3 linked regions of the Homo sapiens genome follow. The protein of the gene in region 1 purifies or fractionates together with the protein of each later gene. This does not show direct contact. Each region holds a gene or a part of one and is shown in the gene's direction. Other genes may lie near its edges.

What was found.
Region 2: the proteins of KCNK4 (region 1) and TMEM161A purify together in Homo sapiens (affinity purification with mass spectrometry; one large-scale study listed by BioGRID and IntAct). This does not show direct contact.
Region 3: the proteins of KCNK4 (region 1) and CRYGB purify together in Homo sapiens (affinity purification with mass spectrometry; one large-scale study listed by BioGRID and IntAct). This does not show direct contact.

What each region holds. Positions count from the first base shown.
Region 1 is NC_000011.10:64,289,441-64,295,449, forward strand, and holds the start of KCNK4 (potassium channel subfamily K member 4), read left to right. Parts: upstream 1-1,861; 5' UTR 1,862-2,126; intron 2,127-2,281; exon of another isoform or gene 2,282-2,345; intron 2,346-2,557; exon of another isoform or gene 2,558-2,678; intron 2,679-3,501; 5' UTR 3,502-3,578; coding exon 3,579-3,767; intron 3,768-6,009. UniProt on the Homo sapiens protein: K(+) channel that conducts voltage-dependent outward rectifying currents upon membrane depolarization. Voltage sensing is coupled to K(+) electrochemical gradient in an 'ion flux gating' mode where outward but not inward ion flow opens the gate.
Region 2 is NC_000019.10:19,134,691-19,145,723, reverse strand, and holds the start of TMEM161A (transmembrane protein 161A isoform 1 precursor), read left to right. Parts: upstream 1-7,245; 5' UTR 7,246-7,295; coding exon 7,296-7,298; intron 7,299-10,807; exon of another isoform or gene 10,808-10,836; coding exon 10,837-10,940; intron 10,941-11,033. Other genes in the region: BORCS8-MEF2B (myocyte-specific enhancer factor 2B), read left to right, coding at 1-30. UniProt on the Homo sapiens protein: May play a role in protection against oxidative stress. Overexpression leads to reduced levels of oxidant-induced DNA damage and apoptosis.
Region 3 is NC_000002.12:208,139,698-208,151,011, reverse strand, and holds CRYGB (gamma-crystallin B), read left to right. Parts: upstream 1-4,853; 5' UTR 4,854-4,891; coding exon 4,892-4,900; intron 4,901-4,995; coding exon 4,996-5,238; coding exon of another isoform or gene 5,239-5,244; intron 5,245-8,098; coding exon 8,099-8,374; 3' UTR 8,375-8,439; downstream 8,440-11,314. UniProt on the Homo sapiens protein: Crystallins are the dominant structural components of the vertebrate eye lens.

The sequences.
Region 1 (6,009 bases):
AGCCAGCTACCTCTCCTGTGCCTGCCACTCAATAAACAGTGTCTGCGCCCCACAGTTGTGCACCTGTCTGTCATCTGCCTTGTGTTCCTATCACTTTTGCCTGTTTGGCCTAAGGCTGAACAGACACTAGCCCTTGAAGTGGGCTGCTAGGCTGGGCAGGGGTGACTTACCCCATCAAGGCTGGTGGGCTGGGAGAGGAGGGGCCTGCAGTTTGCAAGGGAAGGAGACCACACAGGCCTTTGTTCTCAAAGCTCTCCTGGCCCAGAATTGCCCCACTACCTCCAGATCCCTCTCCACTTGAACAGTTGCTACTCTTTCCTCAAGACCTGCGTCAACTGTTACCTCCTTTAGGAAGCCTTCTGTCTCCTGGTCAAGGGACATGGCCCCTCTGCTGGGCCCCACAGCTCCACATTACTGATTATGTGGCCATTGAGGTTCTTTGTTTTGTTTTGTTTTTTGAAGCAGGGTCTCACTCTGTCACTCAGACTGGAGTGCAGTGGCACGATCATGGCCCACTGCAGCCTCAACCTACCAGGCTCAAGCAATCCTCCTGCCTCAGCCTCCCGAGTAGCTGGGAATACAGGCACATGCCACCATTCCTGACTAATTTTTTAATTTTTAATTTTAGAGGTGGGGTTTCACCATGTTGCCCAGGCTGGTGTCGAACCCCCGGGCTCAAGCAATCCACCCACCTCAGCTTCCCAAAGTGCTGGGATTACAGGCATGAGGTACCATGCCTGGCAGCTTCTGAGTCTTAACCCCAATGGATTAGACTTTCTGGAGGCCCTGTTTCCCTATCACCACCCCAACCTGGTCTTTAGGAGTCAGGAGTTAGTCCAGGGCTTGCTGGGGAGTTGGCGCAGTGACTGAGCAGCCCCCATCTTCCTACCAGGGCGTGGGTTTGCCCAGATGTACAGGTGGTCCCCTAGCTATGCCCTCCCGTTAGCCCTCTTCTCCACTGTCCTTAGTAGCATAGTCACTGCCCTCTGCTTCCATGGCCCTGGCAGGTCTGTCTGATGGCTAGGAGTCCTTTGCTGGAGGGTCTGTCCCCTGCCCACATAGGTGGTTGTCCCAGCTTTTCAGAGTTCCCTTGGCTTATCACTGGGCCTGCTTCAAAACCCTTTACTTGGGACCATCCTGGGCACCAGGCCCTCAGGGCCTCCAGAGAGGGCATCTGAGACTCATAGAGAATCAGCTTGAAGCTGGACAATCACTTTTTGTTGAAATAAAAACTGCTAACGTTTGTGGGGCACTTTATTGTGTGTGCCAGGCTCTGTTTTGAGGATTTCTAAACACTGGCCTCCTTAATGCCCAGAACAGCACCCCGAAGTGATGATTAATCATCCCTTTTCTGTAAGTGGGAACAGGGAGACTCCAGAGTTTGGTAACCTGTTCAGGTTCCCTACCAGTAGCGGGTGGTCAGCCTCAAAGCCCAGGCTGAAAGCCATCCAGCATGAGGGCTGAGGACCCCAGCAGGCACCAGAGGGTCTTTGGAGAGGTCACAGGTTGTCAAGTGGGTGAGAACAGGGCGGGGCAAGTTCAGGACCAGCCAGGGCCTGGGTGTTCAGGCAGTGGGAGAGTGGATGCTGGCACCAGTGCCATGCTGGGATCTGCAGGCAGCTTCAGCCACAGCCTTCCGGGGCTGATTTCTGGGCATGGAAGTGAGAACCAAAAGCTGGGGCAGGGAGCACCCTGGAGGGATAGCCGGGGAGCAGGTAGAGGGCCAAAACCTGGAGTGGGGGCAGGAGGTGCTCCAGCAGCAACTCCCCCAGAGGTGGGTCCCAACCTCCACGTCGGCCAATTCCAGGTGGCCCCACCGGGTTTCCCCCACCCCTTTGTCCCGCGGAGCCCCTCCCTCATGAGTGCTGAGCCCAAGGGCCAGGCTGTCCCCAGGGGCGGAGAGTTGCGGACCCTTCCCGATCCGGTAATGGGCCTGGGAGATGCCAGATTAGCGTGGTGCCTGTCCGGAGAGACGGGCCAGCTGATGCCCAGGTCGGGGCCCTGCCGCTGGCCACACTGGGCTCCGGTCCAAGGCTAGAAGGCTGGCCCCTGCTGCAACCCCTCTCCGGCTCCTCTGCCACCCACCTCCCGGGGCTGGCCGGCTGTGGGGAGCCAGGCGGCCGCAGGTAAACGGCTTGGGGCGGCGCCGGCGGCGAGGGCGCTGCACGGAGGGAAGCGCGGCGCCGGAGGGGTTAACCGCGGGAGGAGGGGGGCTTCTGCCGGCGGGAGGGGGGTCCCAGCCCCGGCGGCCGCCCGCTCCGCCCCTGCCGCCTCCGCGGCCCAGTCGGCACCGGCGAGGCCGTGCTGGAACCCGGGCCTCAGCCGCAGCCGCAGCGGGGCCGACAGTAAGTGCGGTGCGGGCTCCGGTGCGCGGGCAGGACTCAGGGGCAGGGACGCCCCAGGGGCGACTGGCCGGGCGGGGTGCCCACCTCTCGCGCGTGGGCGCCTCCGGGAGTGGTGTGGCCGCCGGTCCCGCCGCCCGCCACGCTCCGAGGCGTCGCTGTGCGGACGCGGGGGAGGCGGTGGGAGCGAGCTGCGGGCGCTGCGCGGTGGCCCTGCTGTCTGGCGTGTGCACGCTAGTGTCCACACACGTGTGCGTGGGCTCTGGGTGCCCTGGCGCGGCCGGCACGCCCATGGGGGCCGGGGATGCCGGGGCGTCTGCGGAGAGTGCAGGTGGGGTGCGTGCGTGCAGCGGGGCGGCGCGGCGCTGCAGCCTCGGGATGGAGCGTGGGCGCGCGGGTCTTTGTGCCCGCGCTTGGCGGCGCGTGCCGGGGCGTGTGTGCGCGTGGGCGCCGCCGCCCGCTGTCTCGGACTGACAGCTGTCTCGGGGGCTGTCGCCCCGGTGTGGCCTTTGCGGACCCCCGCCCCGCTTTTTCCGGGAACTGGGCGTCCCCAGCACCCCTCCTCGCCTGGGTGCGGCGGCCGGGACCCGCCCCTGGGTTCCTCGAAAGCCCGGCGGGGCGCGGGGGCACCCTGGAGGGCCAGCCAGGAAGCAGGGCGAGGCGAGAGGGGACGGAGAAGCCGCGGAGATGCTGTCACAGCCGCAGCGGGCGAGCAGGGACCCACCATTCCCCTGTCCCCGCCTTGCGCTGTCCGGCCTCTCCTCCGGGTTTCCCTTCGGACGCCTCCGAGCCCCCTCAGCCTCCTCCTCGAGGGCCAGCTCCCCGCACCCCCACCAAGCTCCACACATTTCCTCGCTCGCCCCGCTTCCCCCTAGGCAGGCTTAGGCTCTCTTTCGGCCTCCCACTCGCCTTCCTTTCCCTTCTCGGTGCCCTCCTCTCTTTCCTCACCCGGTAGTCCCAGACAGGGGCTGAGGGCCGGGCAGCGGAGGTAAGGGGAAGGCTGGAGATAGGAGGGGGACTGGGTGTGTCCAGCCAGAGGGATGTCTGTGGACAGTGCAGCTGGGGGCTTTATGGATCTTTGGGTGTGTAGGGGATAGAGGAGGAGGGTGTGGGTGTCAGGCCAGCTCAGTGACCCCAGCATCCCTGGTTTTGCCCGCAGTGACGACAGCTCCCCAGGAGCCCCCCGCCCGGCCCCTCCAGGCGGGCAGTGGAGCTGGCCCGGCGCCTGGGCGCGCCATGCGCAGCACCACGCTCCTGGCCCTGCTGGCGCTGGTCTTGCTTTACTTGGTGTCTGGTGCCCTGGTGTTCCGGGCCCTGGAGCAGCCCCACGAGCAGCAGGCCCAGAGGGAGCTGGGGGAGGTCCGAGAGAAGTTCCTGAGGGCCCATCCGTGTGTGAGCGACCAGGAGCTGGGCCTCCTCATCAAGGTGCGTGGGTGGGCCGCAGCCCCTTCAGCTGTCACCCATCACCCCTGGCGCTAGCTGTGTGCCAGTGAGGCCCTGTGCCAGTGCTGCTTTCAGATCAGTATCCCTGAGGACGGGTGCAGTGGGAGGCTGTGGGACAGAGGCTGGGGACCAGGTCTCTGTGTTTTCAATAGGGCAACTGTGGGGTCATTTGTTTTCCTGGAGAGCCTGGCACAGGACTGTGCACCTATAATGTCTCCTTCAGGGTGTGATGGTGGTGGGATGAGGGGGAAATGAATGAATGAATGAATGGCCATAGCGCATGGGCTATGTTACATTTGCACAGGTCTCACTCACCGGTCTAGATTGCCACACAAAATCCAAGACTCTCATTTAAACATGAATTACAGTTAAACTGCAAATGCCTTTTTTTTTGAGACGGAGTCTCCCTGTGTCACCCAGGCTGGAGTGCAGTGGTGTGATCTCAGCTCACAGCAACCTCCGCCTCCCAGACTCAAGTGATTCTCCTGCCTCAGCCTCCCAAGCAGCTGGTATTACAGGGATTCATCACCACACCCGGCTAAATTTTGTGTTTTTAGTAGAGATGGGGTTTCACCATGTTGGCCAGGCTGGTCTCAAACTCCTGACCTCAAGTGATCCACCCGCCTCGGCCTCCCAAAGTGCTGGGATTGCAGACATGAGCCACCACACCTGGCCCACAAATGCCTTTTTAATACAAGTCCATCCCAAGCAATATTTTTGTTTGCTAAATCTGGCAACCCTACCTACACCGGTTCCCATACTTTTCTTGGAGTCATGTGCCTTAGAAAAGCCCAAGAACATGGTGAACACACCCCCTCCCCCTGGAAAAGTGTGCATATGAACATGTGCAGGTGATTTGGGAGGGTTCCAGGATCCATGCCACCAGGAATGCCAGGTCAGGTGCCCCTTCCCCCAGCATGCATGCTTACCATGTGGGGAGAAGGGGGGGTGCGTCAGGGTTCCCTGAGGCACTTCTGGTCAGACTCCAACCATAGACTCAAGAAAGTGTTGGCCGGGCACGGTGGCTTATGCCTGTAATCCTAGCACTTTGGAAGGCTGAGGTGGGTGGATCACCTGAGGTCAGGAGTTCAAGACCAGCCTGGCCAATGTGGCAAAACCCCATCTCTACTAAAAATACAAAAATTAGCCGGGTGTGGTGGTGCATGCCTGTGGTCCCAGCTACTCGGGAGGCTGAGGCAGGAGAATCGCTTGAACCCAGGAGGCAGAGATTGCAGTGAGCCAAGATCACACCACTGCACTCACTCCAGCCCAGCCTGGATGATCGGTCTCAAAAAAAAAAAAAAAAAAAAAGAAAGTGTTGGGCTGCAGCCTTCTGGGATACAGTCAGGCAGGCACGTCTGTTACTTTTTCTGATTTCGGAGTCACTGTCATACAAAAAAATTAAGATTTAGCTTTAATAAATTAATGTCTATTATTTGAAATTGAAGAGTACCCTTTGTTCCCTGCCTGTTCTTTGTGGAGAGAGGGGCCATTGGCACGGAGGCCTCAGTGTTCCAGCAGATTCTCAAGGCAGCAGGACTCAGGGCAGAGATGAGTGTGGGGTGGGGTTGGGACACAGACCACCCGACAGCATCTCTGACACTTACAGAATGCCAGTGGAGGCTCAGAGAGGCGTGGGAAGAATGTATCTGGCCAGACCACAGGGCAGAGAGAGGGAGGGAGGGAGGGAGGGAATCTGACCTAGTTTGTCTTCACAATGGAATTGCTTTTTTCCTGGATAAGAAAAAGGAAGAAAAGGAGAGGCAGGACCTAGAAGGGTGGGTGACAGCCGCTTTATTTCTCTTCCACAGTAGGATTCACTCCCTGAATTAGTTGTGCAGCAACTGTGCACCTACTGTGTGCTAGGTGCTGTAGTGTTATATGCCAAGGGGATATTGGAGTGGATCAGACACAGGGTCTGCCTTGGAGGGTGTCACATCTAGGCAAGGGGAGAGATCCATGGTCAGACAGATCACTGTAGGATTCAGTGGAAAGGAAGTTTCCCTCTTTCTGTTAAGCACCAATTGTGCTAGACCTTGAGCTAGGGGCTGGGGACAAGGATGGAGATGTCAGGGGCCTGAGGGATGACCTGGTGATTGAAATACACCAGGCGAGAGGGGTAGAGAGTAGAGACGAGGGGCAAGAGATGCCCATGTGGAGAGACAGCATGGGCAAAGGCGTGGAAGCTGGAAAGTTCCGGAGCATTTTGCAGAACCTGGAGTTA
Region 2 (11,033 bases), on another chromosome or scaffold:
CAGGCCTCTTCAGAGAAGACCCAACAGTGACGCCCCCCTCCGCGGTGGGGGCTTGGAGGTGGGCGGCTGGACTCAATCCACCCTGGGGGGCTCCTTTCCTTCTTCCTATTTGTGTGTATATCCACAAATAAAACGCGCGTGGCGTCCGTGGACCAGACTGACTGTGACTCGCCTCATTCTTGCCTAGTCTTGGCTTGGGGTGCCCCCTCCAGAAGCCCTGAGACGAGGACTCAAGAGCCCGTGGGGTGTCCGGGAGGGCTGCCAGGTGGAGGGTTGGGGAGGCAAGGCGGGAGGAGCCCTGCAGGGGACGCGCACAAGCAGAGGGTGCTTAGCCCGCGGGGGGTTCTGGGGACAGCATAGAGTGAGCGTGCACCTAGAATGGTCCCACTCCAGGGGTGAGGGCCCCGGCTCTTTCCACTCCAGGGCCAATGGCCAGGGCTGCTCCCGGCGCTGTGGGTCATGGGCTCAGGGGCAAGCCCTAGGGCTGGGTCGTAGGGCTCCCAAAAGCAGCAGCTGGGAATCCTGAATGTCGGGCTCCCAGGGCGCTGGAAGCGCCCCTGAACTGTTCATCTTCTTATTTTTTATTTTATTATTTTAATTTTATTTTATTTGAGACAGAGACTCCCTGTGTCACCCAGGCTGGATTGCAGTGGTGCGATCTCGGCTCACTGCAACCTCCGCCTCCCGGGTTCAAGGGATTCTCCCGCCTCAGCCTCCTGAGTGCCTGGGACTACAAGCACCTGCCACCATGCTAATTTTTGTATTTTTAGTAGAGACGGGTTTCCCCATGTTGGTCAGGCTGGTCTCGAATTCCTGACCTCAGGTGGTCCGCCCTCCTGGGCCTCTCAAAGTTCTGGGATTACAGGTATGAGCCACCCAGCCTCGCCGACTGCTCATCTTTTGAATGGGTGTATCTCTTGAGCCCTTGACCCAGCAATTGATTCTACCCAGGGGACAAGAGAGCAGGGTGTTTATATACCCACTCCTGGGGTTGCAAACTGCCCCCACTCTGGCTTGTCCTGTGTGTGAAGACAGACTTGGGTGTCCTGAGGTCAGGGGTGCTCCCAGAAAATAGTTGAGGTGCAGCAGGGTCTATCTGGCCTCACGCACCCCAGGTGGTCTCAGTGGGATTTTTTTTTTTTTTTTAGTTGGGGCCTCACTATGTTGCCCAGGCTGCTCTCAAACTCCTGGGCTCAAGCAATCCTCTCACCTCGGCCTCCAGAGTAGCTGGACTACAGGTGCAAGCCACCATACATGGCATTCAGTGAGATCTTCATAATACTTAACATCTGACTTCTTGCCGGGTGCGGTGGCCAAAGCCTGTAATCCTAGCACTTTGGGAAGCCAAAGTGGATGGATGGCTTGGGCCCAGCAGTTTGAGACCAGCCTGGGCAACATACTGACACCCTGATCTCTACAAAAAATTTAAAAAGAAATTAGCTGGGCATGGCTGGCACATTCCTGTAGTCCCAGCTATTCAGGAGGCTGAGGTGGGAGAATTGCCTGAGCATAGGAAGTCGAGGCTGCAGCAAGCTGTGATTGAGCCATTGCACTCCACCGTGGGCAACAGAGCGAGACCCTATCTCAAAAATAACATCAAAAACAACGACAACATAAAAAACTGACTTCTAGCCGGGCACGGTGGCTCACACCTGTAATCCTAGCACTTTGGGGGGCCAAGGCGGGCAGATCACTTGAGGCCAGAAATTTGAGACCATCTCTACTAAAAATACAAAAATTAGCTGGGCCTCATGGCCCATGCCTGTAATCCCAGCTACTTGGGAGGCCGAGGCACGAGAATCACTTGAACTCAAGAGGTGGTGGTTGCAGTTAGCCGAGATCCAGATCGTGCCACTGCATTCCAGCCTGCACAACAGAGCAAGACTCCGTCTCAAAAAAAAAAAAAAAAAAAAAATTACTTCTTGCCTGTAATCCCAGTCCTTTGGGAGGCTGAGGAGGAAGGATGCCTTGAGCCCAGGAGTTGGAGGCTGCAGTGGGCTATTACCAGCCCACTACAATCCAGCCTGAGTGACAGAACAAGACATTGTCTCTAAAAATAACAGTAATAAAATTTAAAAGATCTGCCTCTGCCATGTTCTGCTCATCTCTTTGAAGCTTTTCCTCATCCTTAGAAGGAAGTTGGGCTCCTCAGCTGCCCTACCCTAGTCTGGCCTGGTCTCCTATCCCTGTCCCAGCCTCTCCAGTACCTTAGAAATATTTGCAGTACCAACATGTGACCCTACTGGTCTTTCCTGGAGCGCCTCCCTCAACCCCCAACTTGTCTCCTTTTTAAACTCCTTCCCACCCTCCAAGGCCCAGCTCTGCCTCTCTTCCTCCATGACGCCTTCTACACTGTCCCAAGCTGAGAAACACCTTTGTGAGTTGGAGTTCACAGATTTGGACAGGAAGACGGAAAACATGAGTGTTGAGATCAAGACTTACAAGATCCGCCTTGGCCGGGGACAGTGGCTCACCCCTGTAATCCAAATACTTTGAGAGGCTGAGGTGGGAGGATGGCCTAAGCCCAGGAGTTCAAGACTAGCTTGGGCAACATGGTGAATCCCATCTCTTAAAAAAAAAAAAAAATTAGCCAGGCGTGGCAGTGCACACCTCTAGTCCCAGCTTCTCAGGAGGCTGAGGTGGGAGAATCACCTGAGCCCGGGAAGTCAAGGCTGCAGTGAGCCATGATTGAGCCACTGCACTCCAGCCTGGGCAACAGAGCAAAAGACCCCGTCTCAAAGAGTAAAAAAACAAAAACAAAAACAGGCCGGGCATGGTGGCTCACACCTGTAATCCCAGCACTTTGGGAGGCTGAGGCAGGTGGATCACTTGAGGTCAGGAGTTCGAGACCAGCCTGACCAATGTGGTGAAACCTCGTCTCTATTAAAAATACGAAAATTAGCCGGGCATGGTAGTGTGTGCCTGTAGTCCCAGATACTCAGGAGGCTGAGGCAGGAGAATCACTTGAACCCGGGAAGTGGAGGTTGCAGTGAGCCGAAATCGCGCCACTGCACTCCAGCCTGGGCAACAGAGCAAGACTCTATCTCAAAAACCAAACAAACAAACAAACTCACCTGCTTTCCAATCACTCTGCCAAGATCCAAAGCTGAGCTGGTTGGCACAGCTCAGCCAGAATGGGCGGGGTACGTTGACTGACAATTTCAAAATCCTTTCTGTCACTCAGCGCCCCAGGGAGAGATTTCTTCAGTAAAACTGAGCACCTTGCATTTCACCCTTAGCGCACACAGTCCTAGACAAGATGATGGGCGGGACGCCTTTTAAGGGATAGGGAGACTGGACAAAGTATATAAGTGACAGAACCCGGAGGGGGCACTTGTTTATACGGCGGAGTATAGGATGCCATCTGCACCCCAGACCCCAGCTAAGGTTTGTCCTACGTCATCTTCGCCACCCTCATCCCCAGTGAGGTGGGGGCTTTGGGGCCCCAGTTTCCAGGATAGGGATATGGCATGATCAAAGTGTGTAAAAGCCCCTCCCCAGGCTCCCGTGGCAGGGGGCATTGGGAGCTGAGGGGAGGCAGTGCCCCCTGGAATGATCACTCTCTGTGTGTGCGTGGAGGCAAACCCACCAGGACTCCAGAACGGCTCGGAGGTGGAGGTGAAGGGAAGAGCGTGCCGTGGGTGACTGGAAGCTCCCATTTCATCCTCTGTGCTGTGGAAGCTTGTAGGGAATGAGACTTGGATGGGGTGAACTTGAAGCCTCTGCAGAGTGTCCAAGTGCGGCTAGAGATTTCGCTCACCCAACCCAGACTCAGGTCTTTTTTCTTTTTCTTTTCTACTTACTTATTTTTATTATTTTGTTTTGTTTTTGTTTTTTGTTTTGAGAGAGAGTCTCGCTCTGTCATGCAGGCTGGAGTGCAATGGCACGATCTCGGCTCACTGCAGCCTCTGCCTCCCAGGTTCAAGCGATTCTCCTGCCTCAGCCTCCTGAGTAGCTGGGACTACAGGCATGTGCCACCATGCTCAGCTAATTTTTTGTATCTTTAGTGGAGACGGGGTTTCACTATGTTGGCAAGGCTGGTCTCAAACTCCTGACCTCAGGTAATCCACCCACCTCGGTCTCCCAAAGTGCTGGGATTACAGGTGTGAGCCACCGCTCCTGGCCTAATTTTGTTTTTATTATTATTGGGTTTTTTTTTTTGTTTTTTTGTTCTGAGACAAAGTCTCACTCTGTTGCCCAGGCTGGAGTGCAGTGGCGGGATCTCGGCTCACTGCAGCTTCTGCCTCCCGGGTTCAAACGATTCTCGTCCTTCCCAAATAGCTCGGATTACAGGCGACTGCCACCACACCCGGCTAATTTTTGTATTTTCAGTAGAGATGGGGTTTCACCATGTTGGCCAGGCTGGTTTCAAACTCCTGACCTCAAGTGATCCTCCCACCTCAGCCTCCCAAAATGTTGGGATTACAGGCATGAGCCACTGCGCCTGGCCTATTTTTTTATTTTTGAGGCAGTGTCTTGCCCTATTGCCCAGGCTGTACTGCGGTGGTGCAATCATAGCTCTCTGCAGCCTTGATCTCATGGGTGCAAGCAATCCTGCCTCAGCCTCCCAAGTAACTGAGACTACAGGTGCACACCACCTTGCCCAGCTAGGCTGGAGTGCAGTGGCAAGATCTCAGCTTACTGCAACCTCTGCCTCCTGGGTTCAAGTGATTCTCCTGCCTCAGACTCCCCAGTAGCTGGGACTACTACTGGGACTACAGGCGTGAGCCACAACGCCTAGCTAATTTTTGTATTTTTAGTAGAAACCCAATAGGGTTTCACCATATTGGTCAGGATGGTCTTGATCTCTTGACCTTGTGATCCGCCCCCCTTAGCCTCCCAAAGTGCTGGGATTACAGGCGTGAGCCACTGTGCCCAGCCTGCCCAGCTAATTTTTGTATTTTTTGTATAGTCTGGGTTTCCCCATGTTGCCCAGGTTGGTCTGGAACTCCTGGGTTTAAGTGATCTTCCCACCTTGGCCTCCCAAAGTTCTCGGATGACAGGCATGAGCCACTGCACCCAGCCTCTTTTTTTTTCCTCGTCATGTTGCCAGGGCTGGAGTGCTGTGGCATGATCACGACTCACTGCAGCCTCAAATTCCTGGGCTCAAGCAATCTTCCCACCTCAGGCTCCTGAGTAGCTGGGACTTACAGGCTTGAGCCACCACGTTGGGCTAATTTAACTTTTTTTTTAATTTAATTTTTTTTTAGAGATGGGTGTTTTGCTGTGCTGCCCAGGCTGGTCTCAAAATTCTGGGTTCAAGCGATCCTCCAGCCTAAGCCTCCCAAGTAGCTGGGACTACAGGCATACGCCAAGCCACCATGCCTGGCTGGACTCAAGTCTTCAACACTTCCCACCTGGTCCCTTCTGTCCCTTCCCCACTCAGGAGGGGTGAGCCACGGTCCTCATGGCAGTGATCAATGGCTGTGGAGGTCCAGCTGAGCATGCAGCTCCTGCCACCTCCAGCAGCGCCACTGCTACATGCACAGATGATGCAAACTCTTCAGCCAGTTACCCACCCTTCTGTTCTGAGGACCTCCCCGACAATGATCCTGGCCTTCCTTCCACATGGGCTGAAGACCTACCTACTCACTGGCACCCCAACCCCGCACATCCAGACCAGGGCCAGGGACTGAGCAAGAGGAAAAGGGTCAAGGTAGCGGGTACCCTGGGGGAAACTGAGGCATGGCCAGAGAGAAAGAGCCTTCCCAGCCTTTGGATCTCACCCTCACGGTGGACAAGAAGTCAGGCCAGTCCCTGATGTTAGTGCCCACAGGCTAAGCACCCAGTGTGAGGTCCATAAAACTATGGGCCGCTTTCTAAGGCTGGGAGCCCCCAGGGCCACAAGTGAGACTGGTTTGACTTCTCCATCCCAGGGAGACTGCGCTTTTGCCCTCCACCACGAGGTGGCGTGCGATAGTGCGCTTAGGATTCAGCACTTGCCAGCCGAAAGTTAAAAAAATAAAATATAAACCAGGCCCGGTGGCTCACGCCTGTAATCTCAGCACTCTGGGAGGCCGACGTGGGCGGATCACCTCAAGTCGGGAGTTCAAGACCAACCTGATCAACATGGAGAAACCTCATCTCTACTAAAAATGCAAAATTAGCCAGTCGTGGTGGTGCATGCCTGTAATCCCAGCTACTCGGGAGGCTGAGGCAGGAGACTCACTTGAACCCAAGAGGCGGAAGTTGCGGTGAGCCAAGATCACACCATTTCACTCCAGCCTGGGCAACAAGAGCGAAACTCCGTCTCAAGAAAAAAAAAAATTAATACACAAATACATAATAAAATGTAAAAACGAAAAGGTAATTACTCAGGCCCCACACACAGGAACCCACCCCCATAAAGATGCTCAGACACTCAGTCATACCCAATATATGTCTACACTCAGGCAGACACACTCATCCACAGAAAGACAAATGGCAAAACCGGGGCACAAACACCAGAAGCCCTTTCCTCCTAGCGGTGAAATAAAGAACATCAGATCCCTGAAGCTGACATTTGGTCCTTGATCCAGCCACGCCTGAAGCTGACACTATGGCTAGTATTTTCTGTCACATGAGCCAAAAATTTTCCTTTTTTGCTTGAACCCATGTTAGTTGATATTTTGTGGAGCACAGCCAGAGTCCTAGCTGATAGAGATGAATAAGGCACTTGCCAGGTGAAAAAGATTGAGGCATTCTTTTTTGCTTTTGTTTTGTTTTTATTTTAAGATTGAGGCATTCTTGAAGGCATTGCAAGATGTAGGATATTTACAAAGGCCTGGAGGTATGAGACAGCATGGTGGGTGCAAGTTGTACTATAGGGTGCACAATAGTGCTAGCAGCAGATTTAAGTCAGGCAGAAGGGTCTGAATTCAGTCTGAGTACTTAGCCTACTTAGTACTTAGGAGTACTAAGTACTTCGTCTACTAAGTGGGAGCCATTGAATGTTCTTGATGGGGGGAGGGAATTCTACTCTCAGAAATGTCCCTTAGGTGGGAATAAATGCTTTCGCTGCAAACCTTTGAGATAAGTGTAGGAAAGAGAAAACTAAGCCTTAAGAGAGGTCGGCCACGCAGGCCTCCCAGACACAATCTTCACTTTGATCGATCCGAACCAGCGTATCTGAACTACAATTTCCGGCATGCAACGCGAGCGGCCTCCTCGTCCCTGGTGATTTGCCGGCTCAAGACACACTGATTGGTCGGACGGGATGCTCGTCAGACCAGAGTCGGGCTCTAATTGGTCGAGTTTCCGCAGAGTGCCCGGAGCCCTAGGCCGGTGGGTGAGTGCACCGCGTTCTCGCACGCGTCATGGTGAGCGAGCGTCCCGCGAAGTGGGGGGTTCTGCAGGGCCGAGGTCCAGCCGAAGGGGTCCAGGGAGACACTGAGGGAATGGATTGGGGTTTCTTCTTGGGGATTGGAGGCTCTGAGGGATTCGGGGGCACGCTGAAGGCCGTGTGTCCCTCTCTGGGAGCCCTGCTCTCGCTACAGGACCTCCGAGGGAGTCGGCGGGAGTTGTACCCAGGGGGACTAGAAGCCCCTAAGCGTTCTGGGGATTCTGCCCTCGAGACCTTTTAGGGGTCTGGGATCCTTTTGAGGGGTCGTGGTCCCACAGAGGGGACTGGGGACCCCAGCACATTTGGAACCTGGTTAAGGCGGTGTGGGGTCCTGTTGGGGGTCCACTCTGGGGACGGGGGTCCTGCAGGAGCGTGGGGGCCGCGCCGACAGGATCCATCGGGGGTCCCTGCTATATCGGGGTGTGTGGAACGGGCAGGGGAGGCCGTGGGAGGTGGACTCAGGAGGTCTGGTTGGCCTCAGGGCGGGCAAGGTTCTCAGAGTGGGAGACAGGAAAGTTGGAACCTTCAGGTCTCACGCGGCTCTGGGTCCAACCTATTGAGTGTGTTCTTAAAACTTAGCCCAGCCCCTGGGGGTCAGGCTGGTGCAGGGAGATGGGGGACTCCCACAACCCTGACGGGACCGGCCTGGGCAGAGAGAGGGACGTGGAACTGGAGGGTCTCTGCCTGGGACCATCCCCGAGGAGGGGCGCTGGAGATGGCCCTGAAGGAAGGGCACTGATGGCCGGAATTATTGAAAGTGGGGCGTCGTCCCAGGCGGAGGTGCAGGACGCCGTAGGAGATGAAGGCACAGGCTCCCGGGAATGAGGAGGGAGGCTGCATTGATTTTATCAGGGTTCTTGAGTTCGAGAATCGTAAATCCAGTGAAGGGAAAAGAAGGAGCTGATGGAAGACTCCAGAAAATTCTTGCAGATGTCTGCAGAGCCCTGACCCTGAGACAGGAGGCTGGGTGGAGGGCAGGGCCATCAGAACATCCCTGGACAGACCTCTGGGAGCCTTAGGTGGAGAGATGCACCCCTCCACCACCTTTTCCCTTGGGGGGTTTTGGGGGGTGGTGGGGTCATTGATGAAGAGCCCAAAGGTCCAGGAAGACCTCTGAGACTCCAGTGGTTGGGTGCAGGGAGGGCTGAGGAGAGAGCTGAGCTGTGGGGAGGTGGAGGGATGGTCTCTAGCTATGCCTGCAGGGTGCAGAACCAAGTTGGGGGCTGACTGTGAGACTGGGAAGGGCCTGAACCACCTGGAAGGGTATGGGATGATGGGTGAGTGCTAGGGTCTCCCAGGAGAGCCTGGAGGAGGCTACTGGTTGAGCTCAGCAGAGAGGTCTGGGCTGGAGGTGTCACCGTGCTGAGGTTTTGATGGGCTGGCTGATTGGGTGGTTAAAACCCTGGCAGGTCACAGGAGAGAGGTCGGAGAGAGAGGAGAAAAACAGACTGGGGGGTGGGAGGGCAGGGTCCTAGGGGAAGGGTGGGGCTTCAACAGCCCTGACCCACTGGCTTGCAGGGGCCCATGGGCTGGCACTCATGGTCCCTAAGTGCCAGCCAGCCAGTCTGCACTAGGGTCCCGGGGAGGGCGAGCAATGAGGACTTAGAGATGAGAAAGATGCCGCCACCAACCTCATTACTGAAAAAAGATTTCTGGTCTCAGTTTACAAGTCACAGGTACAGAGAAAATGTCCTATTAGTCTGTTATTTTATGTATTTTTATTTTATTATTATTATTATTTTGTTTTGAGACAGAGTCCCACTCTGTTGCCCAGGCTGGAGTGCAGTGGCACAATCTCGGCTCACTGCAACCTCTGCCTCCCAGGTTCAAGCAATTCTGCTGCCTCAGCCTCCCAAGTAGCTGGGATTACAGGCGCCCACCACCATGTCTGGCTAATTTTTGTATTTTTAGTAGAGACAAGGTTTCATCATGTTGGCCAGGCTCGTCTCAAACTCCTGACCTCAAGTGATCAGCCCGCCTCAGCCTCCCAACATGCTGGGATTACAGGCACGAGCCACCGCACCTGGCCTCAGCAGTCATTTTGAATTACCGTGCTAGGCCCGGTACCCATCACATTAGGGTTTTTCCGACTAAATTTAGCTTATTTATGCCTGATTAAAGGATTATTTTCATAATTAATTTTACTATTAAATAAACTTTATTTCATTTTGATGATAATTCCAGAACACTAGTAGACAGCTCTCCTGAGCACATAATTTTACATAATTATGTAATTACTGGCAGCAAATGGGTATTTACTGCATTCAAGCAGGAAAACCCAGCTTCACCACAGACTGATTCTTCTAAAACGTTTAAAAATAAGTATATGAAAATGTGTTCTGAATTAAGAACTGGGTGAGAAAATTCCTAATTAAAAAAAAAAAAAGCCTTAGCTGGGTGTGTTGGCACATGACTGTAGTCCTAACTACTCGGTAGGTTGAGGTGGGAGGATCACTTGAGCCCAGGAGTTTGAGACCAGCCTGGACAACATAGCAAGACCCCATCTCTAAAAATAAAAATAAAAATAGGCCGGACACAGTGGCTCACGCCTGTAATCCCAACCGTTTGGGAGGCCAAGGCAGGAGGATTGCTTGAGCCTAGGAGTTCAAGACCAGCCTGGCAACATGGAGAAACCCTGTCTCTACAAAATAGACAAAAATTAGTTGGGTATGGTGGCGAGTGCCTGTAATCCCAGCTACTAGGGAGGCTGATGTGGGAGAATCACTTGAGCCTGGGAGGTTGAGGCTGCAGTGAGCACCCCAGCATGCCACTGCACTCCAGCCTGGGTGACAGAGCAAGACCCTGTTCTCCCCACCACTCCCTTGCCAAAAAAATAAATAAATAAATAAAAATAAATAAGCTCACCCCACTCAGACATGTAGGTCTTCACACCAAAACAGGAGGTGGCCAGGAGCATAGACGCCCTTTCAAGGAGGTTAATTACAAAGGGAAGAAGAGGGAGGAGGGTGATGGAACCATCAGGGATCACTTAAGGTGGGAGACACTTAGGGGAAGGAGCTACCAGGTGAAGGAGAAAGCTAGAAGCTCAACCGAGACGCAGTGGCTCCCTAGGTGACAGTGTGGGGTGCAGAAGGCGGTGGGAGCCGCTTTCACTGAGTGTGGCGGGCTCGTGGTTAGGGGCTGGAAGGTGGTGGTGAGGAATACAGGAGACTACATAGGAAGCACCCATTTCCAGATGAGAAAACTGAGACTCCGGGAAATTAATATTATACCTGAATCCATAGCGGAGGCGGGAGGCAAATCCCATGGTCTCCACTGCCCTACACTCCCGCTAGGTGGTGAGGGTGGGTGTTGATCTCTGACGTGGGAGGGCAGGGCCATGCTAGGTGAGTCCAGACTCACCCCAGGACTCTCCCCTAAGAAGCCGCTAGAGCCTAAGAGGCTCGCCCTTCCCCCATCCAGCCTGACTTCTCTATAAATAGCCTGGGTTCCTAGGGAGGGAGGGAACTTGTGACCCTCTGGCAGGTGCTGCCAGTCATGTCCCCTCCCCCCAGGCGGTCCTCGGAGTACAGCTGGTGGTGACCCTGCTCACTGCCACCCTCATGCACAGGCTGGCGCCACACTGCTCCTTCGCGCGCTGGCTGCTCTGTAACGGCAGGTGAGCCCCGCCCCGGCGGTGGGAGGGGCCCGCGGAGTCACGCCCCCTTCTGGCTCCCCACGCCCCGCCTCACAAATTGCAAAGCCTTGATTT
Region 3 (11,314 bases), on another chromosome or scaffold:
TCTTCATAAATTACCCAGTCTCAGGTAATTCTGTATAGCAGTGTGAGAACAAACTAATACACTCTCCCCTTTTACCAAAATTATAGTCAGTCTTCTCTGAGTCTTTTGTTTTACTAGGTCCAACCTCGGGCTTCCCTTTTTGTCCTTATAGAATCCAGTTTGATCAAGAATCCTCCTGAGTCACTTTAGTGAATATCTCCCACCCTTGGTATCTGAACACCTTGGTCATCCTTCCGCGATAACTCTACCAAGTCAGTTTAGCCAGAAACCTCTTATCCTTGGTGTTTCCTCTTAGTAATTTTCCATCCACTGCCCCTGACCCCACTCCTAGGTTGTAAATCCCCATTCATCCTTTTTGGAGTCAGAGTTGAGTACAATCTCTCTTCCCCACTGCAAAACCCCATTGCAATGATCCCTATTCCTATCACCATGGCCCTCTCTGAACAGTCTTCCTTACCACTTTAACAAGTGTGATAATTTTTTCTTTAACAATATATATGACACTATTTTCTAAATCATTGGCAATATTTTACAATTTGTCATATGCTTTCAAATCCATTGTCTCATCTGGTTTTCATTGTTATTCCTATTTAATAAATGGGGAAACTGAGGCTTAGGGAAGTTAAATGACTTTTCACAAGCAGTTACAGAAACTGTAAAAGTTAGTAGATGTGTGTAGCTATTGCTCCCCTGAGTGTATTCTCCACAAATAGTGCCTAGTCAACAATTTCCCAGTGGTTGTTAGTATTGTGATGAAAAACAAAATTTTTTTAGAGGAAGCAGTGTGAAATCCAGACCATGGGACAAGCAGGATAGGTTGTCATAGGTGGTATTGTTTTCAAGTGTTGGTTTCTCCACCAAGCAATGGTGCAGGCCCTGAAACTATCACTCTCCCCTCCTACAACTCTAACCAGCCTAGGTGCCTGATACTCCAATAGCAGAAGCTGACTATGCAACTGAGAGGACTTGAATTCAAGGCCCAGACATTCCCATGACTTTGGAAACAGCAGATGAAGCTCTTTCACCAACCTCTTGAACCAATATTTTCTTTCTAAGTATTTAATTTGATTCCCCAATAGTCTCAATATAACAATTTGCCTCAAGGCTTGTTTAGGGCTGTCACTAGTTGTGCAAGAGGTTGGAACAAATTCTTCAATGTCACATGAGATAGGTTAAGGAATGGGCCTGAGCCAGCCTATAAGCACTCCATACTGTTTATCTGGCTATGGAGAGTCATGCTAGGGCCTGGGTATCTACTGGATACTGTGTAGGTTCTGTTCCAATAGAGGGACCCCTGCCCCCTACAGATTTCCCTTTTTGGAGTGTAGCATAAGTCAGTGGGAGAAATACACAAGCTGCCTGGATTGACAGTATCAGCTATTTACAGCTCTCTGGGAACACCAGCTTCCCTGCACCTAGAAACTTTGGGACAAATGGGATCTTTGGGGCCCATAGGATATTAGGGGCCCTGCCCCCTGCCAGAAGAGGAAGCCACCAGTCTCGTGAGAAGTAGGGAGAAAGTAGCTATCTCCTTGTACAAACTATGGTGAAAACCCAGGTTAATTACAGGTAATTCTGCTCTTTGAATTATAATGCTCATTAATGTGCCTGAATTATAATGCTCATTAACGTGCCAAGTCAAAGGCAGACTCTCCGATTTGTGTAATCTAAGCACTGAACAAATTTTATCTTCAGTTAGGCTTTTATACATTATATAAGATCTTATAAAGCCATAATAACAAGATCATGCACTAATTTCTTCTTCTTTCTTCTATTTTTCATCTTCTTTCTTCTCTTTTATTTTTCAAAAGTGACCAGCTCCCAGTACCAGGTAAGGAGGCCTCATGTTGGGGCTCCCTGAAGACTATTCCCACATACATGATTAGTTCCTTTCAAGGATATCTTCTCCCAATCCCTAGACTTATAAAAGACCCTGAATCTTCTGCGAGATGCCCAACTGTAGGGGAGAAAATTCCTACTGAGGCTCCAAAGAAAACAGGAATTTCACCACTAGGGGAAGACAAATGTCAAAGTGAGCCCTTCAAGAAGAGTCACAACTGATGCTGAAATATGTTTAATCCTTCAATTTCTTCTATTAGAATCAATGAGATTTTGATTTTGTGTTCCTAATACTTAGTTTATCTTTCTTTCATAGGATTACTGATTCTTCTACGTATCAGAACCAGAGACTGGTTGAATTTGTATGACTTAAAGGAAGTTACTCTAGGGTCCTCAATCACTTAAACATCATCCTGCAGATAAAAATCTGGGTAATTTTAAATCAGATCAATGCTCACTACATGATAGTTCATCATGATCCTCAAACACCCACCTATGCATCACACTGAGTATGTTAGGTCTTACATCAAACAGGGTTGTTAATTTAGTCTCTTTAAGAGTTAGAACTTTCAGCACATAAAGACTGTTTACATTGTTTTAGTGAGTCCACTGGGTGAATGATATTCTCCTGAATACTGCCTAGACCTCAAGCATGGGTATAGCTAACCAATAGAGAGTCTAGAACGATTTTTCATTCAGTTTCTCTTCACAAAAAAAATATATATATATGTATTAAAAGGCTAAATGTGATCACCTTAATCAGTATTACTAATCACTTTATTTGAAAGGTGACTTAGAAGAAAACAAGAGAATGCTACACAGTATAAATAACACTGTACAACCACACATGGGTTTGACATATAAAAAAGCTGGGATGATGAAACACCAAAATGTTAACTGCAGTTATCTCAGCTTTATTTTCTTCTTGTAGTGGACGCTCTGGTGCTGCCTGGACTTCCACTGTGGACTGAAGCACTCCTTCTCCCAGATGCTGACAGCTTAAAGCTGAGTTTGTCTCCAAGAATTTTCTTCTGCTGGAGGAAGCTGCCTTGCCCAAAGTTACACTTCTCCATGGCAGCAGCCCACATCAAATTACGGGGCAATGCAGAGGCACAGATTCCCGGTCCACTTGCCTAAGTTCCTGACAACTCTAGCCCTAGCCTTCCCTGCGGGATGGGATGAAGTCACCATTATTGCAATAGCTCTCTCTCAGCTCACACTTACAACTGCCTGCAGGGGTCCCTTCTGACCAGCTGATAGAGTGGGGGAAGGCTGAGCTTGATACACTAATAAATTGGCATGGCATTTGGGTACAAGCCCAAAATAGAATGCTGCTGCAGAATAGCTCACTCAGGAGTCACCCTAAAGACAGCAGTGAGGGAAATCCTCCCAAAAGGCAACCTTGAGGTAGTGCACCTGGCTGCTCACTCGGTGCAGAAAGAAAAGTAGCCCAAGGTCAAGCATATATGGAATTATTGAGCAGTAATGTGTGGCTTGGCTGGCTGGTCCAGGGCCTGGAAGGAGAAAGATTGGAAGATTAGGGACAAGAAGGTCTGGGGTAGAGGAATGTGCAGGGAGATATGGGATTGGGCACAAAGGGCGAAGATAGTTGTATCCCATGTGAAGGCCCAGTGTAGGGCATCCACCATTGAAGAGGCACTAAACAACCAAGTAGAAAAAATGATTTGGTCATTTGATTCCAGTCAGCGTCTGCCATCAGCCACCCTACTGCTGGCAGTGAGCTCACTAAGAGAGCGTTCATAGTGGTATGGATGAAGGCTATGCATTAACTTCTACTTATTAAGGCTAATCCAGCTATTTCCACTGTAGAATGTCCAATCTGCCAGCAATAGGGACCAACTCTGAGCCCTTTTGGTCCCATGCCTTGAGAAGACCAATCAGCCACTTAGTGGTAACATTTGAGGCAGAGCAGGAACACCAAACAGCAGGCAGGACTCTGGACAGCCACCAGCAGAAGGAGGGATTTAGGCCCTTAGGAAGATCTGAAAGGGGGAAGAAAGCCACAACTATCTGTTTTTGCTCAGGTCAGAGCCAATTATTGAGGACCTGCAATGTGCCAACCCTCTGCTCTAGGGCTCAGGGATAGACATGAACAAGAAATAATACCCAGCCCCCAGAAGCCTACAAAATTCCAGGCAAGTATCAGTTTTATTCAAGACAAGCCCCCAAACACCAACAATGATGATCACAGAATTTTTTTTTTTTTTTTTTTGCGACAGGGTCTTGCTCTGTTGCCCAGGCTGGAGTGCAGTGGTGCAATCATGGCTCACTGCAACCTCGACCTCCTGAGCTTAAGCAATCCTCTCACCTCAGCCTCCCAAATAGCTGGGACTACAGGTATGCGCCACCATGCAGGGCTAATTTTTGTATTTGTTGTAGAGATGGGGTCTCACCATGTTACCTAGGCTGGTCTCTAACTCCTGAGCTCAAGCAATCCACCTGCCTCAGCCTCCCAAAGTCCTGGGATTATAGGTGTGCACCACCTCGCCTGGCTGATCACAGAATTTTGAATTTGAACTAAGCTTTATGGGTTTTAACACACTTTCACAGATTACTTCACTTGATTCCCTCTTCTTTAAGATTCCTTACTATTTAAATTCTGGCTTTTAGAACTAAAACACACACACACACACACACAAAAACACCACCAGTCCCTGAGCAGAATTCATTACTTAGTTTAATGACTTTTGAGAAGTCAATTAAGCAGAGTAAACTATAAAATAAAAGCACAGAGACAGAATTTCGCCCATCCTTTTGCTCAACTAAAAGTGTACTCTATTCATTTTGATGGCAACAACAGCTTTAGTGAATTAGAACAACCCGAACCTACCAGAAAGAATGAGAGTAAACCATTCAGCCAACCCCAGTGACCTGGGCACGGAGAGCAGCGAGCTTGCAAATCCCCTTACTCACCAAAATGGGCCCTTTTGTGTGATTTCCTGTGGAGGCAGCAGTCAGGGCTGCTATACATACAGTGACGTTCCCGCAGTCCCACACAGCAACCAGAAAACATCTGCTCACTTCCTTCAAAATGGGAAAGGTAAGTCCTGGGTACCGGATGCTCAGCCTTGGCCCTAATGCAGTGGCCTCAGTGGGGGCCAATCACTCCATGCTCCCACATCTTCCATTTTTCAGATCACCTTCTACGAGGACAGGGCCTTCCAGGGCCGCAGCTACGAATGCACCACTGACTGCCCCAACCTACAACCCTATTTCAGCCGCTGCAACTCCATCAGGGTGGAGAGCGGCTGCTGGATGATCTATGAGCGCCCCAACTACCAGGGCCACCAGTACTTCCTGCGGCGTGGGGAGTACCCTGACTACCAGCAATGGATGGGCCTCAGCGACTCCATCCGCTCCTGCTGCCTCATCCCCCCGGTGAGTGTGGCTCTGTCTTTGCCTTCCATCTTTTTGGAAATAAAAGCTATTTCATGATATTCTTTTTTTTTTTTTTTTTTTTTTTGAGGCGGAGTCTCGCTCTGTCCCCCAGGGTGGAGTGCAGTGGCATGATCTCGGCTCACTGCAACTTCCGCCTCCCGGGTTCAAGCAATTCCCCTGCCTCAGCCTCCTGAGTAGTTGGGATTACAGGCATGCACCACCATGCCCAGCCAATTTTTGTATTCATAGTAGAGACGAGGTTGCACCATGTTGCCCAGGCTGATCTCGAACTCCTGGCCTCAAGTGATCCGCCCGCCTCGGCCTCCCAAAGTGCTGGGATTACAGGTGTGAACCACGGCATCCGGCCTATTTAATCACATTATTCTTAAATCCCAGCTACTCGGGCGGCTGGGGCAGGAGAATTGCTTGCTTGAAGCCGGGAGATGGAGGTTGCAGTGAGCCGAGATCGTGCCACTGCACTCCAGCCTGGTGACAGAGTGAGACTCCATCTCAAAACGACAATAACAACAACAACAACAACAACAACAAACTTTTGCTTGCTTTGTCTTACTTTTCTATTTGATTATTCCTCCTGAGAAGATAGGATCCTGTCTTCTGATTTCTATTCTAATTTAATGGTCAGTACCTATTAGCTCACTTAGAGGTATAAATTAGAGAAAAGGCCAAATCTGAAACTAAAGTTTGAGATTCCATATTTTCTGGGCAGTGACTGCAGAATTCTTAGAATTGTGGTGTGTGGGAGGCATGGGATACAGTGTCATAAAAACAGAAGTTAATGAAGGTGATACTTGCTGCTGAGGGAAATAAATAAGTTGAGAGCAGGAGGCTAGAAAGGAAGCTTAAAAGTCAGATAGGTTGAAATTTGAACTGAAGGCTGGGTGCGGTGGCTCACGCCTGTAATCCCAGCACTTTGGGAGGCCGAGGTCAGGAGGTCAGGAGTTCAAGACCACCCTGGCCAATATGGTGAAACCCCCTCTCTACTAAAAATACAAAAATTAGCTGGGCTTGGTGGCACGCGCCTGTAGTCTCAGCTACTTGGGAGGCTGAGGCAGGAGAATCGCTTGAACCCGGGAAGGGTAGGTTGCAATGAGCTGAGATCATGCCACTGCACTCCAGTCTGGGTGACAGAGCAAGATTCCGTCTCAAAAAAAAAAAAAAAAGAAAAGAAATTTGAACTGAAAATTAGCCAGATGTGGTGGTGCATGCCTGTAGTTCCAGCTACTCAGGAGGCTGAGGTGGGAGGGTCACTTGAGCCCAGAAGGTTGAGGGGGCTGTGACCCATGATCATGCCATTGCACTCCAGCCTAGGTGACAGAGGGAGACCCTGTCTCAAGAAACAAATACATATATGTGTGTGTGTGTGTGCGTGCGCATATAATAGTGAACCCCAAATATCTGAGACAGGTCTCAGTCAATTTAGAAAGTTTATTTTGCCAAGGCTGGGCACAGTGGCTCATGCCTGTAATCCCAGCACTTTTGGGAGGCCAAAGCAGGCAGATCACCTGAGGTCCGGAGTTTGAGACCAGCCTGACCAACATGGAGAAACCTCTACTAAAAATACAAAATTAGCTGGGCGTGGTGGCGCGTGCCTGTAATCCCAGCTACTTGGGAGGCTGAGGCAGGAGAATTGCTTGAACTTGGGTGGCAGAGGTTGTGGTGAGCCGAGATCACGCCATTGCACTCCAGCCTGGGCAACAAGAGTGAAACTCCATCTCAAAAAAAAAAAAAAACCCAGAAAGAAGGTTTATTTTGCCAAGGTTGAGGATGCACCCATGACACAGCCTCAGAAAGTCCTGAGACATGTGCCCAAAGTGGTCAGGGGTACAGTTTGCTTTTATACATTTTAGGGAGACATGAGACATCAATCAATATGTATAAGTTGTAAATTGGTTCAGTCTGGTAAGACAGGAAGTAGGGGCTTCCTGGTTAGACATGGATAAGAAACAGAGCTGGGCGCGTGGCTCACCCCTGTGATCCCAGCACTTTGGGAGGCTGAGGTGGGTGGATCGCCTGAACTCCTGACGGAGTTTAAGACCAGCCTGGCCAACATAGTCAAAGCCCGTCTCTACTAAAAATACAAAATATTAGCTAATCGTGGTGGTGGGCGCCTGTAATCCCGCTACCCGGGAGGCTCAGGCAGGAGAATCACTTGAACCCAGAAGGTGGAGGTTGCAGTGAGCTGAGATTGCGCCATTGTACTACAGCCTGGACAACAACAGCGAAACTCTGTCTCAAAAAAAAAAACAGTAGATAAGAGACAAAAGGTTCTTTGAGCCCTTGATCAGCTTTCCACTGAATACACAATTTAGTCTGGCTCGATGACTCTGCATCTTTACATAAACAATAGGGGAGAGGAAGCAATCAGAGATGCATTTGTCTCAGGTGAGCCTCAGAGGGATGACTTTGAATAGAATGGGAGACAGGTTTGCCCTAAGCAGTTCCTGGCTTGACTTTTCCCTTTAGCTTAGTGATTTTGAGGTCCCAAGATTTATTTTCCTTTCACTGTATATACATAATATGACATTTAACTTTCCAATGACTCTCAGTTTTCTCCTTTGAGAAAGGCTTTCTCAAATAACAGGCACTAAAGTGATGTGATATTTTATTGTAAGCAAATCTTAATTCCCAAAGCCCTAGCTCTGCCCATGAATCATTAGACTCAGCGGTGGGTGACTGGGGAGTGTGACAGCTCCTTAACTTTGCAACAGGGTTGTTCTAGAAGCAAACTTGGCCTGGGAGAACTTCTGGGCAGGTGTGGCCAGGGAGGTGTAGGGACTGGAGCTTTAATTTCCATCTGTTTTTGTTTGTTTACTCTTGCGTTTTCTGTCTGCCACTCCAGCACTCTGGCGCTTACAGAATGAAGATCTACGACAGAGATGAATTGAGGGGACAAATGTCAGAGCTCACAGACGACTGTATCTCTGTTCAGGACCGCTTCCACCTCACTGAAATTCACTCCCTCAATGTGCTGGAGGGCAGCTGGATCCTCTATGAGATGCCCAACTACAGGGGGAGGCAGTATCTGCTGAGGCCGGGGGAGTACAGGAGGTTTCTTGATTGGGGGGCTCCAAATGCCAAAGTTGGCTCTCTTAGACGAGTCATGGATTTGTACTGAAGTATTTACGTTTTCCACTTTTCTCCTTTAAAATCTAATAAAATATTTAGCTTGTGTTTCTGGCACTAGTAGAGCCCTGTCTTTCTTTCAATCTATTAAGCATTTATAAGTGATAATGGCACTCAGCCAAACATAATAACATGTTTTCATGATGGGAAGCAATCTTTTATAAGGGGAATAATGCAGAGATATTATTTCCAGCACTCTTGTAATGACTAAAACATGTAGGCTCAAATAAAAGCTCAGTTCACTTGGACTCAGGCCAATTGTAGTTAGTCTCACCAGGCTAGATTTGCAGCTACGGTGGTGAATTGGTACTTTTTGAAACACCTCCAAGTTATCCCTCCAGGTTATCCCTATTGTCTTCCCTAATAGTCCAGGCCTTAGCTGATGAGGAAAGTTGTTCTCAGCCTCTAGACTCCTACCTCAGCTCCATAAACAAACAAATAAATGAACTGGTCCACTCTTACCTATTGCACTCCTGTCCTCCTAACAGTCACCATCCCTTTCCTCTCACTTCCACTGCCAATATCTCATTCCACTATGAGATTTCCAGTCCAAATAGAATTCACTGTGTTTTCGCTATATGTGCTTTGTGGAATAATTTCAGGACATTTACAAAAACCACATGCGCACGGGAAGCTCAGCCTCATGTCATTTCAGTAGAGAGTAAAATATTATGATTACACATAATAATACTAAGTGGCCGGGCGTGGTGGCTCACACCTGTAATCCCAGCCCTGTAAACCTGCGTCTCCAGGGCTCAAGCGATCCTCCCACCTCAGCCTCCCAAATAGCTGGGATTACAGGCGCACACCACCATGCTCAGCTAATTTTTTTTATTTCTAGTAGAGACAGGGTCTTGCCATGTTGCCCAGGCTGGTCTCAAACTCCTGAGCTCAAGCGATCCTCTTGTCTGGGCCTCCCAAAGTGCCAGAATTACAGGTGTGAGCCACCACACCCAGTCATAAACTCGGTCATTTGTTTTGATTTTGGGTTTTTTTTTTTTTTTTTTTTGAGATGGAGTCTCACTCTGTCACCCAGGCGGGAGTTCAGTGGTGCAATCTCAGCTCACTGCAACCTCTGCCTCCCAGTTCAAGCAGTTCTCCTGCTTCAGCCTCCCAAGTAGCCAGAACTACAGGCGTGTGCCACCACGCCCGGCTAATGTTTGTATTTTTAGTAGAGACAGAGTTTCACCATGTTGGCCAGGCTGGTCTCAAACTCCTGACCTCAGGTGATCCACCCACCTCGGCCTCCCAAAGTGCTGGGATTACAGGAGTGAGCCACCACGCCTGGCCTACACTGGGTCATTTTTGAGAGTGAAAGTATATACTATTAATAATTACACTGGGACAAGAGACATGAACCAGGACTGTTCTAGGCAAACTTGGATGCAAGTTTACCCTACTGTGTGTGTGTGTGTGTGTGTGCTAAATATTACTACAAAAGTGTCAAAAAGGTTTAAAATGTTAAAAAGTTTATGTTACAAAGTTACAGTATGCTAATGTTAGTTTATTATTGAAGAAAGCAAGCATTTTAAAAAAATGTGTAGCCTAAGTTTAGCCTACTGTATGTATATGTATATTAGCCTACTGTATGTGTGTATATATAGAGAACACAAATACATATAAAGATTTATTTCCTGAAAAACAGTCAGAATCTAGGATTATTTAGTGTTAACTCTTCCTAAATCTTGGGTCTTTAACCTTTAAACTCGCAACAATAGTGATGGCTTCCTGGAGCTATTAATCAGAGTCCTCTGTTTGTCAACAATAACATGTCAAACATAATTCAGAAAACCAAAAGCTTCTTAACGTGCTGAATTTTACACTATTTTCCTAGAAGACATAAAATCACATATTTTGGCTGGGTGCAGTGGCTCACGCCTGTAATCCCAACATTTTGGAAGGCCAAGACAGGCGGATCACTTGAGGCCAGGAGTTTGAGACCAGCCTGACCAACATGCCGAAACCCCGTCTCTACTAAATTTAAATACAAAAATTAGCTGCACGTGGTGACACATGCCTGTAATCCCAGCTACTACAGAAGCTGAAGCACGAGAATCGCTTGAACCTGGGAGGCGGAGGTTGCAGTGAGGTGAGATCACGTCACTGCACTCCAGCCTGGGCAACAGAGAGAGACTCTATCTCTAAAAATAAAAATAAAAGTAAATCACCGTCTTTAGGCATGAAAATTATTCTAAAACATCTGAACTGAAAGGGATTAGAGTCCCCGAATCTCTTTGATCAAGTCATTATTCTTAGAAATTTTTTGCTCCTATCCCTGGGATACAGGCAAAGAAAAAGATGTCCTGTCCTCCTCCTAAATCCAACATAAAGAGAAAGTCAATACTCAGGTGGTCCGCCTGCCTCGGCCTCCCAAAGTGCTGGGATTATAGGTGTGAGCCACCGTGCCCAGCTTGCTATACTATACTTTTTATCATCACTTTAGAGTATTCTCCTTCTACTTATACTTTTTTTTAAAAAAAAAAGTTAACTGTAAACAGCTTCAGGCAGAGCCTTCAGGAGGTACTACAGAAGGAAGCATCATCATCATAGGTGACAGTTCCATGTGTGTTTTTGCCCGTGAAGATCTTCCAGTGGTACAACATGTGGAAGTGGTAGACAGTGATATTGATGATCCTGACCCCGTGTAGGCCTAAACTAATGTGTGTGTTTGTGTCTTAGTTTTTCACAAAATTTTAAAAAGTAAAAGAATAGGCCAGGCGTGGTGGCTCACGCCTGTAATCCCAACACGTTGGGAGGCCGAGGCAGGCAGATCACTTGAGCCCAGCAGTGTAAGGTTCTTGTATCGGTTCCAACCCCAAGAGCGCGTCCACAGACAACACGAGGAGGTGTGGAGCAATAAGCTGTTTTAAGGAGCGCCTGGGTGCGCCTGAGTGCAGGAAGGCCGAGGCTTAAAATGGCGTCAGCACCAAGT